2 separate regions of the Homo sapiens genome follow, and region 1 is linked to region 2. The links come from fine-mapping of genetic effects on gene expression. A gene starts in region 2. The other region holds a variant in brackets. All regions are shown on one strand. Distances are between the middles of the regions.

Region 1 (5,000 bases), 80 kb before region 2:
TAGGTTCTCGTTTTTCTTCAGCACGAAGTTGGAAATGGAGTTGAGAAAAGGAGACACATGGTCAGCTGGTGATGTTAACAAGCTCCTTGCTGCCCTGAGAAGCTAGATGGAAATGGTTCAAGTTACAAGGGGGATCATCATCAGATCTGGGAGGACAAAGAGTAATTCATGAAGCTTCATTCCCTTCCCTCCCACCCTCTTTCATTTACTGATGATTCCTATAGTCTGCCATCACAGCAAAACCAAGATTAAGGAATCTGAAGCAATCCCTTTCTGTTCTTCACTCCATCCAGTGTGTAGAAAAGCCAAGCGGAACACATGTCCACCAATGTTATGGTGGCCCCCGGTTGGCTGGGGAGACTTGAAATGGCCATAACCACATAACCACAATCTTAGACCAATGCTTTTTAGTACGATCTTGGAATTAAAGATCAGCAACTAACACAGTGTTTGACAATAGGTGCCTAATAAAGGTTGGTTGAATAAGACATTTTCTTTTCAGCCAATGTCTACTCGAACACATAGGTGGAAGTCAGACAGAAGTAGTTAACTCTTTCAATGCCGGGATCGTATGGATATACAGTAATCACATCATGTCAATGTGTTTCTCTAAAACATGTTCAAATTATGGATTCCTGATTTCAGACTTCTGGTTAAATGCTATCTATGTTTGTCTGGTTTTTTTAAGAACCACCATAATCAGAGTTTTGAAAACAGAGCCATAGTAAATGTTAATTAGAATGATGGATGAATTAAGAACCCCAGCACCAATGTATAACAAAACATCACAGTTCACAGTCAAGTAAAAACATTTCTCAGTAATACAATTCTAGATGGGTAATGATTCCAGAGCAAACTAAAGTTTGAAGAAGAGAGGAGAATTTTACTTAACGGCTCCCTTGACACTAAGAATCAGGAAAAATCCAAAGTATGAAGGATAAGAAGGATATATTTTAAGTACAAATAAAGTTTTAAACCTCAAATCAAGAGGATCATCAAGCTACATATAAAATTGCTTTGATGTTTCAGATAGGAGTGGGGAAGATAAGAAGAAGGGGAAGAAATAATTTTGTAGGACTCAAATGTGTGTCCAGAGTGTGAGTTTAAATTACCATGGTTACATCTAATTGGGTTAAGTATATCCTAGAGAGTAATTCATACCATCACAATTACAGAAACCCACTATCATACGAAGAAACAAGAATATTTACTTTTTCCAGATTTTAAGATAGCTTTACAATGATTACTTCTTAGCAGTTTTAAAAAATAACATCAACCAGAGACTTCTCCGGCAAAAGTAAACTACTGGTCTACAACCCTACTTATTCTTCCTTCCATAAAAGTACAGCTATAAAGGCCTTTTCTGTGTCCATTTGTGTACTTGTCTTCATCTCCACCTTCTTAACTGAGCTTCTTTACAGGCTCCACTAGCAGCCTCCAAACACAAGAGGGACTCCTTTTAGGGACTCCTGTGCTGTCACAAAGCAGGCCTTAAATAAAAATCCATCAAGTGACTATCCCAGCACTTCTTTCAATTAACTGCAATTCTGATTCCTGCAGTTCACATACTGACTTCATAAGTAAATTTACTACGAACTCTTCCTTTCATATTTAGAAAAAGGCCTGATTTCCTAAGACATAATAAGGCTGACTTTATACTGAATTGTAAGTGATGAAAGTAACATGAGTAAGAGCTCAAATGGGTAAACAAAAGCTGAAACCACAACATACTTAAAGAAGGGTCTCAACACAGCAAATGAGGAAGCATAGTACACAACCACCAACTACTCATTTTGCTCAGTGTTTAAGGCCAGTTTCATTGGGTCAAATCACAGGATCTAATGGAGTGAGCTTTGTCATCATAATTAGGGGCAGGGAGGATTCAGGTGTTCATCTTGCTGCAAAGAGTCAGGATTGCTGGTTTATTTGGTTGCTTCATCTCCGGCAGAAGAAAGGAGGAACAGAAAAATAGAAGCTAGTTAAGTAACCTGTTCCCACAGGGTCCTCAAGACGTGGATCCCAAGTCCAGATCACTTACAAATGAAATGTACCACACCTCTCCTAGGTTTATCCTGTTATTCATTCTTGTGTTTATCCAAGACTCAGTCTGGGTTTTCTGCAAAGCAAACCCTGCACATCTTGCTACATTCTTCAACAAGAGATTATGTATGTAATAGGCATAAGAGTTCCAGATCTATTTTTCCTCTTTTGTCCAAAGAAATAGGCATTTAAAAGCAGGCCCATTTCAGAAACAATAATAGAAGTGAATACGAACTAGTTCCATAAAGT[T/A]GTTTTTCTAAAATAAAAATTTACATTCAATCATTTTTAGTAAGCTGCTAAATTATCTTAGTTTTCCAATTATTTTTAATTTTCCATTAATACAACTGATTTCCAATAAATTTAAACACTAATTTTTTCTCATTACAAATAGAATCCTAAGTTTGCTCCTCAAAGGATTTTTGTTTTTAATGTGAAGAGCACTTAAATGACTGAACTCACTATTGTGATGTACTTTTCTAAGTGACAGAAAAGAAGACATTTGTATATTAGTTTGGCTAATATGACTCTTGCCACGGTTTAGAGGATGTTTGAGACACTTATAAATAAAACAGTAAGAGAGACAGTATTCCATTTTTCAGAAATATGCATGGCTAAAAAAAGTAGTTAATTTTGCTTAGGTTTGTAGAACTCTAAACCTGAGTAATTCAAGTTGAAATGAACAAAAGATGCTTCCTTACCTTTAGGTCTTTCCAACTGTCCAGGAGTTTGGTGGCCAAATCACTTATATCCACTGTTTTATCTGGCTGTTCTTGGCTCCTTTCACTCTCCACATCAGACACACCCTCCTCTTCATCTTGGGATGGTGTTTCTTCATTAATAGGTTCTTCTAGTTTTGTGCCGTTGCTCTCTTTGGGCTCTATTTCAGCGTCAGCTTCTGGTTCAGATGTAGGTAGCTTACTAGCTTCTATGTTGGTTTCACTATCAACTTTGCATTCAGGCAGCTGTTGTGGGAGTAGCTGTTGTGACTGCAATTCTTCCTCTTCCTCTACAGGGACATTTTCTAATTGATCAAGATCCTCTTTGCCATCCTTGCCTTCTAGCTCACTGGTTGCATCAGAGATTGCACTGTCCATGCTATTTTCACTTATAATTTTCAGTCTGCGAAACATTAGTTTCTTGGGAGTGTCTGTGTCAGCTTCTGTGCTCAGCTTGGTGGAAGGATCAGGTGTGTTGAGTGGTGTATGAGCACGCGATGTATTCTCACTAGAATACCCATCTCCTTCACTCAACGGAGGGACAGCAGTCTTAGTCTGAGACCAGCGTTGAATAATTGGAAGTACTTTGCTTTCCTCCAACATATTTTTAGTAGGAATGGGCAAGTGTTCCAAAGTCTTTATAATCTGATTAAACATAAAAAAAAATTACATCACTTTGTACAGTTGACTTTTTTTTTTTTTTTTGAGACAGAGTCTCACTCTGTCACCCAGGCTGGAATGCAATGGCATGATCTTGGCTCACTGCAACCTCTGCCTCCTGGGTTCAAGCAATTCTCCTGTCTCAGCCTCCCAAGTAGCTGGGAGTACAGGCGCTAGCTGCCACGCCTGGCTAATCTTTTGTATTTTTAGTAGAGACAGGGTTTCACCATGTTGGCCAGGCTGGTCTCAAACTCCTGACCTCAAGTGATCCACCCACCTCGGCCTCCCAAAATGCTGGGATTACCAGCATGAGCCACCACACCTGGCTACAGTTGATTTTGTTTTTTTTTTGAGATGGAGTTTCGCTCTTGTTGCCCAGGCTGGAGTGCAATGATGTGATCTTGGTCACTGCAATCTCTGGCTCCCTGGTTTAAGCGATTCTCCTGCCTCAGCCTCCCGAGGAGCTGGGATTACAGGGATGCACCACCATGCACAGCTTTTTTTTTTTTTTTTAGTAGAGATGGGGTTTCTCCATGTTGGTCAGGCTGGTCTTGAACTCCTGACCTTAGGTGATCCACCTGCCTCAGCCTCCCAAACTGCTGGGATTACAGGCATTGAGCCACAGCGCCTGGCCTACAGTTGACTTTTTCAATTTCTGGATGGGACTCAGATTATTTCTGCAAGAGTAGTGCAGTTTTGCTACTGCTTTATTAAGAACTACATCTCTGTAAACACAAGCATATTTAAAAATCATAATATTGTTTTCCTTAAGAAAGAAAAACTTTTAATAAGACTGATCAGCAAGAATCACAACATCAAATAGGACTGATTAATATTCTCTACCAGTAGTTCCTAAACCTGGGTAGCTTTTTAAACATATACACTACTGGACCAATCCTGGGTATCTTTTCTTAAAAAGTTTACCAAGTGTCTGTGATATACACTTAGCAGCTATGTAACAACATATTTAAATGATGTCTGTCATACACACAAAAATGCAGACATCTCTTCAGCTTTTGATAAACAGCTGTCTAGCAAAGAGAGATCCCCTCCTCATTCTTAGACAACCTCCCCCATTTTGAAATCCAAGAATTTTTTCTGAAGTATTCCTCAATGTAGTTCCACAGAAACCCCAAGGCTTCCTCAATTTCCTCAAGCCAAATCTCCTGGGAGAAGGACAGAGGCAAGAACAAGTACTTATCTGCCCATTCCTTTTTGTTTGTTTTTAAAAGTGTTTTATTAAATAAAAGACTCTGGGATTATATTACAAATTAGAAAGTTAGAAAATTTTATTAATTTCATAGAAAGGTAAAGACATCGTAACTCCACTAATAATGCTGCCAATGAACCTTTACTTAGATCTTTTAAAACACTTATTTAAAAGATTCCTCAAAATGTTCATACTCTTGTTATGCAGAATTCAGATCTTTACCAATTCTTTAGACCCCACAGTTCAAATTTTATATGACTTCCCATCTTTTTAAAACTCTGGTTTTAACAACAAACTGGATCTTTCACTTAACTATGTTGTTGTTATTATATCTTGCTCTTGTAGTTCCCTGCTATGTAGTACCAACTTTAAAA
Region 2 (5,470 bases):
CAACTAGAAGCACTTACACGTGCCACATTCTGCGCCAAGTGCTCTTCATGCATTATCTCATTCAATCCTCCCAAAAAGCCCCAGTAAGTTGTTAACCATTATAATACCTATATAAAAGATGAGAAAACCCAAGTTCAGAGAGATGAAGTCATCGTCCAAGGTTAAAATAGTGTTCAGATTCAGGTCTGACTCTGAAATCCAGGTTTTTTAAACCCTATACTGCCTTTCTCTCTCCTCTCTCTAGCATTATAAACACTAACTAGCTTACTATCTCAAGAGTTTGCTGTCACTTCACTTCTCTAGCCTTCATTTTCTTCATATGCCAAACAGGTGATATTGCTCAGGATACCTACCATGATCCCCTCCAGTCTTTATAGTATTATGAAAAAAAGGAAAAACAAAACAACAACAACAAAAAACATGTTACAATTCTTTACTCCATACAGGTTAATACACAAGAAGAGGCCTGGCACAATGGCTCATGCCTGCAATCCCAGCACTTTGGGAGGCCAAGGCAGGAGGCTCACTTGAGGCCAGGGATTCAAAACCAGTAACGTAATTTATTTTTTTTTAATTAGCTGGGTGTGGTGACACATGCCTATAGTCCCAACCCAGGAGGCTGAGGCAGGAGGACTGCTTAAGCCCAGAGGTTCAAGGATGCAATGAGCCATGATGACACCACTGCACTCCAGCCTGGGTGACAGAGTGGGACCCTGCCTCTAAAAAAAAAAAAAAGGAAAAAATACACGAGAATTTAAAAATATATAATCACTGTTAGAAATCCAAAGCAGTGGATTTCTACTACATTAAAGCAATAAAAATAAAAACTCCAAAACATGTAAAACCATAAAACATTCTTGATTCCTTCCCCACTCAGGTCTACCAAAGATGCACTTCTGAGTCCATTTTCCCACATATTATGAAAAATTGTTTTTCCCCAAGAAGTGTAAGGATGTGATCCTTAAAGCTTCCGGACTTCACCAAACAACCTGGTAAAAGGAAGTGAAAGCAGGCACTTAGCCTATTCAGGGGTTAGCATGTTACTTTGTACAGAGCAAGTGCTATATAAGCATTTATTGAATCGTGATATAAAATTTTTTTTGAGGTTTTTCAAACTAAAAACCTATAACATGAGCTTTGTAATTGGACTGATGGTGCAGTAAATCAAAACAATCTTACCTAACTGACCCTGCCAGTAGCAAAACAAAAAGACCAATCTAATTAAGGTAATGTTAACCAATGGCCAAGAACCCATGAAAGGAAAAAGCCATGTTAACTTACTATTGCAAGTAAGAGTTGGGTTTTTAGAAAAGCAAAATAATGATTTATCTTGTTGTGCAGAAATGACCAACACCTCAACAGAATCCGTTTGTGTTGCAATCAAAACTATCAATTAAGATCCAGACATTTCTGGACCAATGTGAGAAGATGTGGCAAGGGATTCAAAAACGAGCCAGAGCAAACCTAAGGTAAAATGTGTCAAAACAGCAAAGCTCTTGGAATCATCCTGGTCATAAAAGTTTGACAGTTTCATGTGAAACCCCTATCAACCGATAAGTTTTAAATCAATAGTATATTCCTAGGTCTAACACCAGCAAACGGTGTTTAAGAACGGCTTTTCAAAACAATGGTCTCGTGAGGGTTCAGGGAAAGAAGTGACTCCAGGCTTTCTGAGATAGCAGATACAGCAGCAGATTCAGACCTCAAGAGAAATGTAAAGGTGTCCTAGACTGAAAAATTACTATTGGGCAAAACTGTGTGTCGGTTTTCCACAACATTGTCTTCTTTAGAGAATCCTCAAACGATTCTTGGTTTTTAACCAAGTCTTCACAAGAAATAGAAAGTCATCCGTTTAGGGTAAGAGATTCCTGTTACCAAGAAAATTGTGTCCGAAAGTGTGAAAATCTCACAACCTGCAAGAAAATGTATGTCCCTCAGGAGGCTTTCATTTTCAAGCGGAAAAACAAACCCGGTGTCACCTCAACAACGGGACCACACAAACCTCGCCATTACAAAACCCAAGTGCCAAAGGTGCACAATGTGAATCCGGAAGCACTGCAAGGCCAGGATCGAGTTCCCAGGAGGAAAAAATCAAACTCAGGAGTGCAGCGCGGGCCCCTCCACGGCCCGGGGGCCAGGCAACCCGCGCTAGGCCCTTCCGGTCCGAGGCGCCGCCGTCGCGGGGAGGTCGGGCGACGGGTCGAGCTTCCACCCGAGCCCGGGGATTCGCGGCCTACCCTCACCGGCGCCCTCTTGCCGGGCCCGGCACCGGCAGCTCCTCCGACTCTGCCCTTTGGCTAGCAGCGGGGCCCGGACGAGCCACGAGGAGCCCGAGAGGACCGCCGAGCCCCGGGATGGCCGGGTCGGTGCGGACACGGCGGTAACCGTAGGGACCGTGGCCGCCCCTCCCCCACCGGCCCGGCCCAACCGCCGCCGCGACACGAGCAGCGGCGCCAACGCCGGGCCCAACCGCGGGCCTGCTGCGGCCCCGGCCAAGCGGCTCGAAGTGGCGGCGCGGGCCTGCTCCCGACACCGACCGCGCGAGGCCACCGTGGGCCTGTTACTCCTCGCGCCGGCCCGCGCCGCCACCCGTCAGGACGCGCCGCCCTCGGCTGGGGATAAGGCGGCCGACAGCAGCGGGGGGCCGCGGAGCTGATACTTACTCAGGGGTCGGGTGCTCCGGGTCGTAGAAATCCCCCATCTTCGGAGGCGGCTGCGGCTGCAGCTGCTTCATCGGGAGCGGCTGGAGACGGCGACGCGAGCCCCCTCCCCGCAGCAGGGCGACGCGGGGGAGGGGAGGGGAGGAGGCCGCAGGTCCGACCGCGGCGGCGGCGGCGGCGGCGGCGGCGGCGGCAGGGGCGGCCCGCGTCGCTACCTCGCTCGTCGCTCCCTCCCTCCCTCGGACGCCCGCCAGCCGCTCTCTCCCTCTCACCCTCACACCGGGAGCGACGCACACCCCACCCGCCCCTCAGCTTCGCAGGCCCGGCCCCTTAAAGAGACACACACGGGCCACCGATCTGCCGCCAGTCGGCGTGCCTTGCAGCTGTTGGCTTGACCCCAGGCCGGGACGGGCAGAGCGGAACACTGCCCGGCGGGTCCAGGCCGACCGTGCCTGTGGCTCTCCGGAACAATAAACCCCCGGCCCCAGTGATGTGGGCCAGACCGGACCTGGAGAGGCGGCACCGCGACCCCTCCCGCAACCCGCCTGGCGGCCGGGGGCAGCGTGACCCGGCCCGCTACCGTGTCACAGCTGGCGACTGACAAACAGCAGGCGACGTCGGGAGAACTCCCCGAGACACCCGAGACATCAGCCTTCTCGCTCCGCGGCCCTGCAGGACCTGCCCGCCGGGAGCCCCGGAGTCCGCGGCAGCGCCGAGGGCCCCTCCCCCAGGCCTCTGGGCTCTGAGGTAACGCGGCCGCGGCTGCTCCCGGGCCCCTCGTCCCACTCGCCCCTCTCTTTTTTATTTTTCCTCGCCCTCTCTCTCCCTTGCCCGTTCATCTCGACCCTTTAGCAAGCATGGAAGCCCAGCGAGGCGGGGGATTGCTCGGAGGCCGAGCTCCCGGCAGCCTCCTCCGCCTTCCTTCCCGCTGTGCCCTCGGGGCTCCTACCTCCACCTCGGCGCGGCGCTCTGCCCCCACCCGAAGTCTCCAAGGCGGCAGCTCCCCTCTCCTGTGTGGTTCTTGGGGCCTTAGAGGCAATGTCATGAAAAAAAGGGTATTAATCACTTTCCTACAGAAATGATAAGATGAGACTAAGTAGAATAACTTGAAAGAGCTACGAGTTGTTATTTTTGGAAGGAGAGATAGGAACGCGTAAATCCAATAGCTAAACTTTCTAGACGCTGAAGAGTTTTTGGCGATAGATCATTTTGACATTGGGGGTTCATAGGGTTAGCGTTTTTTGTGTTGTTGTTGCTGTTGTTTTTCCACTAGAATTTTGAATCGGATTTTACCAGCAATTGGTAACGGAAAGGAAAGGATGTGTCTTCCAATTGAGAAACAGTGGTTAAAAACTGAAAGTGGGCCGGGCGCGGTGGTTCACGCCTGTAATCCCAGCACTTTAGGAGGCCGAGGCGGGCGGAGTAACTGAGGTCAAGAGTTCCAGACCACACTGGCCAACATGGCGAAACCCCATCTCTACTAAAAATACAAAATTTAGCCGGGCGTGGTGGCGCACGGCTGTAATTCCAGGTACGCGGGAGGCTGAAGCAGGAGAATCGCTTGAACCCAGGAGGCGGAGGTTGCAGTAAGCCCAGATTGTGCCACTGCACTCCAGCCTGGCGACAGAGCAAGACTCCATCTCAAAAAAATAAATAAATGAATGAAAATAAAAAATAAATTAGCTGGGCGTGGTGGTGCGCCTGTAATCCCAGCTACTCGGGAGGCTGAGGCAGGAGAATCGCTTGAACCCAGGAGGCGGAGGTTGTAGTGAGCCCAGATCGCACCATTGCACTCCAGCCTGGGCGATATAGCGAGACTCCGTCTCAAAAAAATAAAACAACAACAACAAAAAAAAACTGAAATATGATACGAAAGAATAAACATCCTTCAGTGGTTAACTTTTTAAAATAGCCTTTATATGTATGTAGGCTACAGTGTCTATTAGTGTTTTATAATCATTGTTTTTCACTTAGGGATTATTTTGGCTTTTGTTTTTTTTTTTCCTGGTACCTTTAGGGTTAGCATGGAGGTCCAGGGTCCATCTGACTCCCTAGGTTCGAATCTCCCAAGGCCATTTTTTTACACACCGTGATTATTACTAATTTCCCTGTGGTTTTTCTCATTATAAAATGAGAATATTGCTGCCGACAGGTCTTCTCATTATTGTGAGGATTAAATGAGCTATTTGTTAAAGGCTTAAACTTTCAGTAAACGTCAGCATTCTTCAGCCATGATAGTGCAGAGTTTAAGAGGTAGCTCTACCTGGCATTGTGTACCAGGCACTTTCTAGCCCTGTGACATTGGGATGCTTGCTTCTTATGCTTCCCGTGCCTCACCTGTAAATGGGGTATTAGCCACTGTGCAGAGAATGTTGTGAACATGCTTGCACAGTGCCTTTCATTGAGTAAGTGCCCAGTAAGTGTTATCTTTTGGGCTTTGAAAGAATAGATTGAGGCCCTGTGCCTTAGATGCCACATAGGCAATTGGGAGTCACTTGACCTTGGACAGGCAGGAAAGGACAATTTTAGGTGGAGGTGGTTGAAACAATGTGAGGTGGTAAGGACCTAAGCTGAGGTGAATGAGAAAAAAGCAGTCAGGTGCAGGTTTCCTATTTCCTTAATAAGAAAGTAAGCAATTCTCTTGCAGGAGGTACAGCTGGGCACTGGAATGCCTGGTCTCATGATAGCATTGGTTTGGTCAGAACCCAGTGCAATAAGCTTGTCAAGCCATGGGAATCAGTGAGAATTCTAAGCCCCAAACAGAAACAAATGAACTGGGTTTTTACAGGCAGTGCCTTCATCTATAACTG

Evidence for each region. PIP is the estimated chance that this variant, and not a neighbour inherited with it, causes the effect. A credible set is the group of variants that fine-mapping cannot tell apart.
Region 1: its variant is the best candidate, but not a certain one, in a credible set for the expression of SETD2 in whole blood (GTEx, PIP 0.85).

Annotation. Positions count from the first base shown.
Region 1 is chr3:47,080,982-47,085,981 of GRCh38, forward strand. SETD2 (SET domain containing 2, histone lysine methyltransferase) reads right to left here. Exons shown (of 21, transcript NM_014159.7): 12 at 2,739-3,401. Among named protein-coding and RNA genes, the nearest start is that of SETD2, 81 kb to the right of the region's middle. RefSeq lists enhancers at 2,771-3,272, 3,157-3,296. The variant T/A (reference allele first, on the strand shown) is at 2,290.
Region 2 is chr3:47,161,191-47,166,660 of GRCh38, forward strand. SETD2 (SET domain containing 2, histone lysine methyltransferase) reads right to left here and starts at 2,923. Exons shown (of 21, transcript NM_014159.7): 1 at 2,664-2,923. The coding sequence starts at 2,734. KIF9-AS1 (KIF9 antisense RNA 1) reads left to right here and starts at 3,180. Exons shown (of 7, transcript NR_033373.1): 1 at 3,180-3,407. RefSeq lists silencers at 2,216-2,525, 2,576-3,325, 3,376-3,425.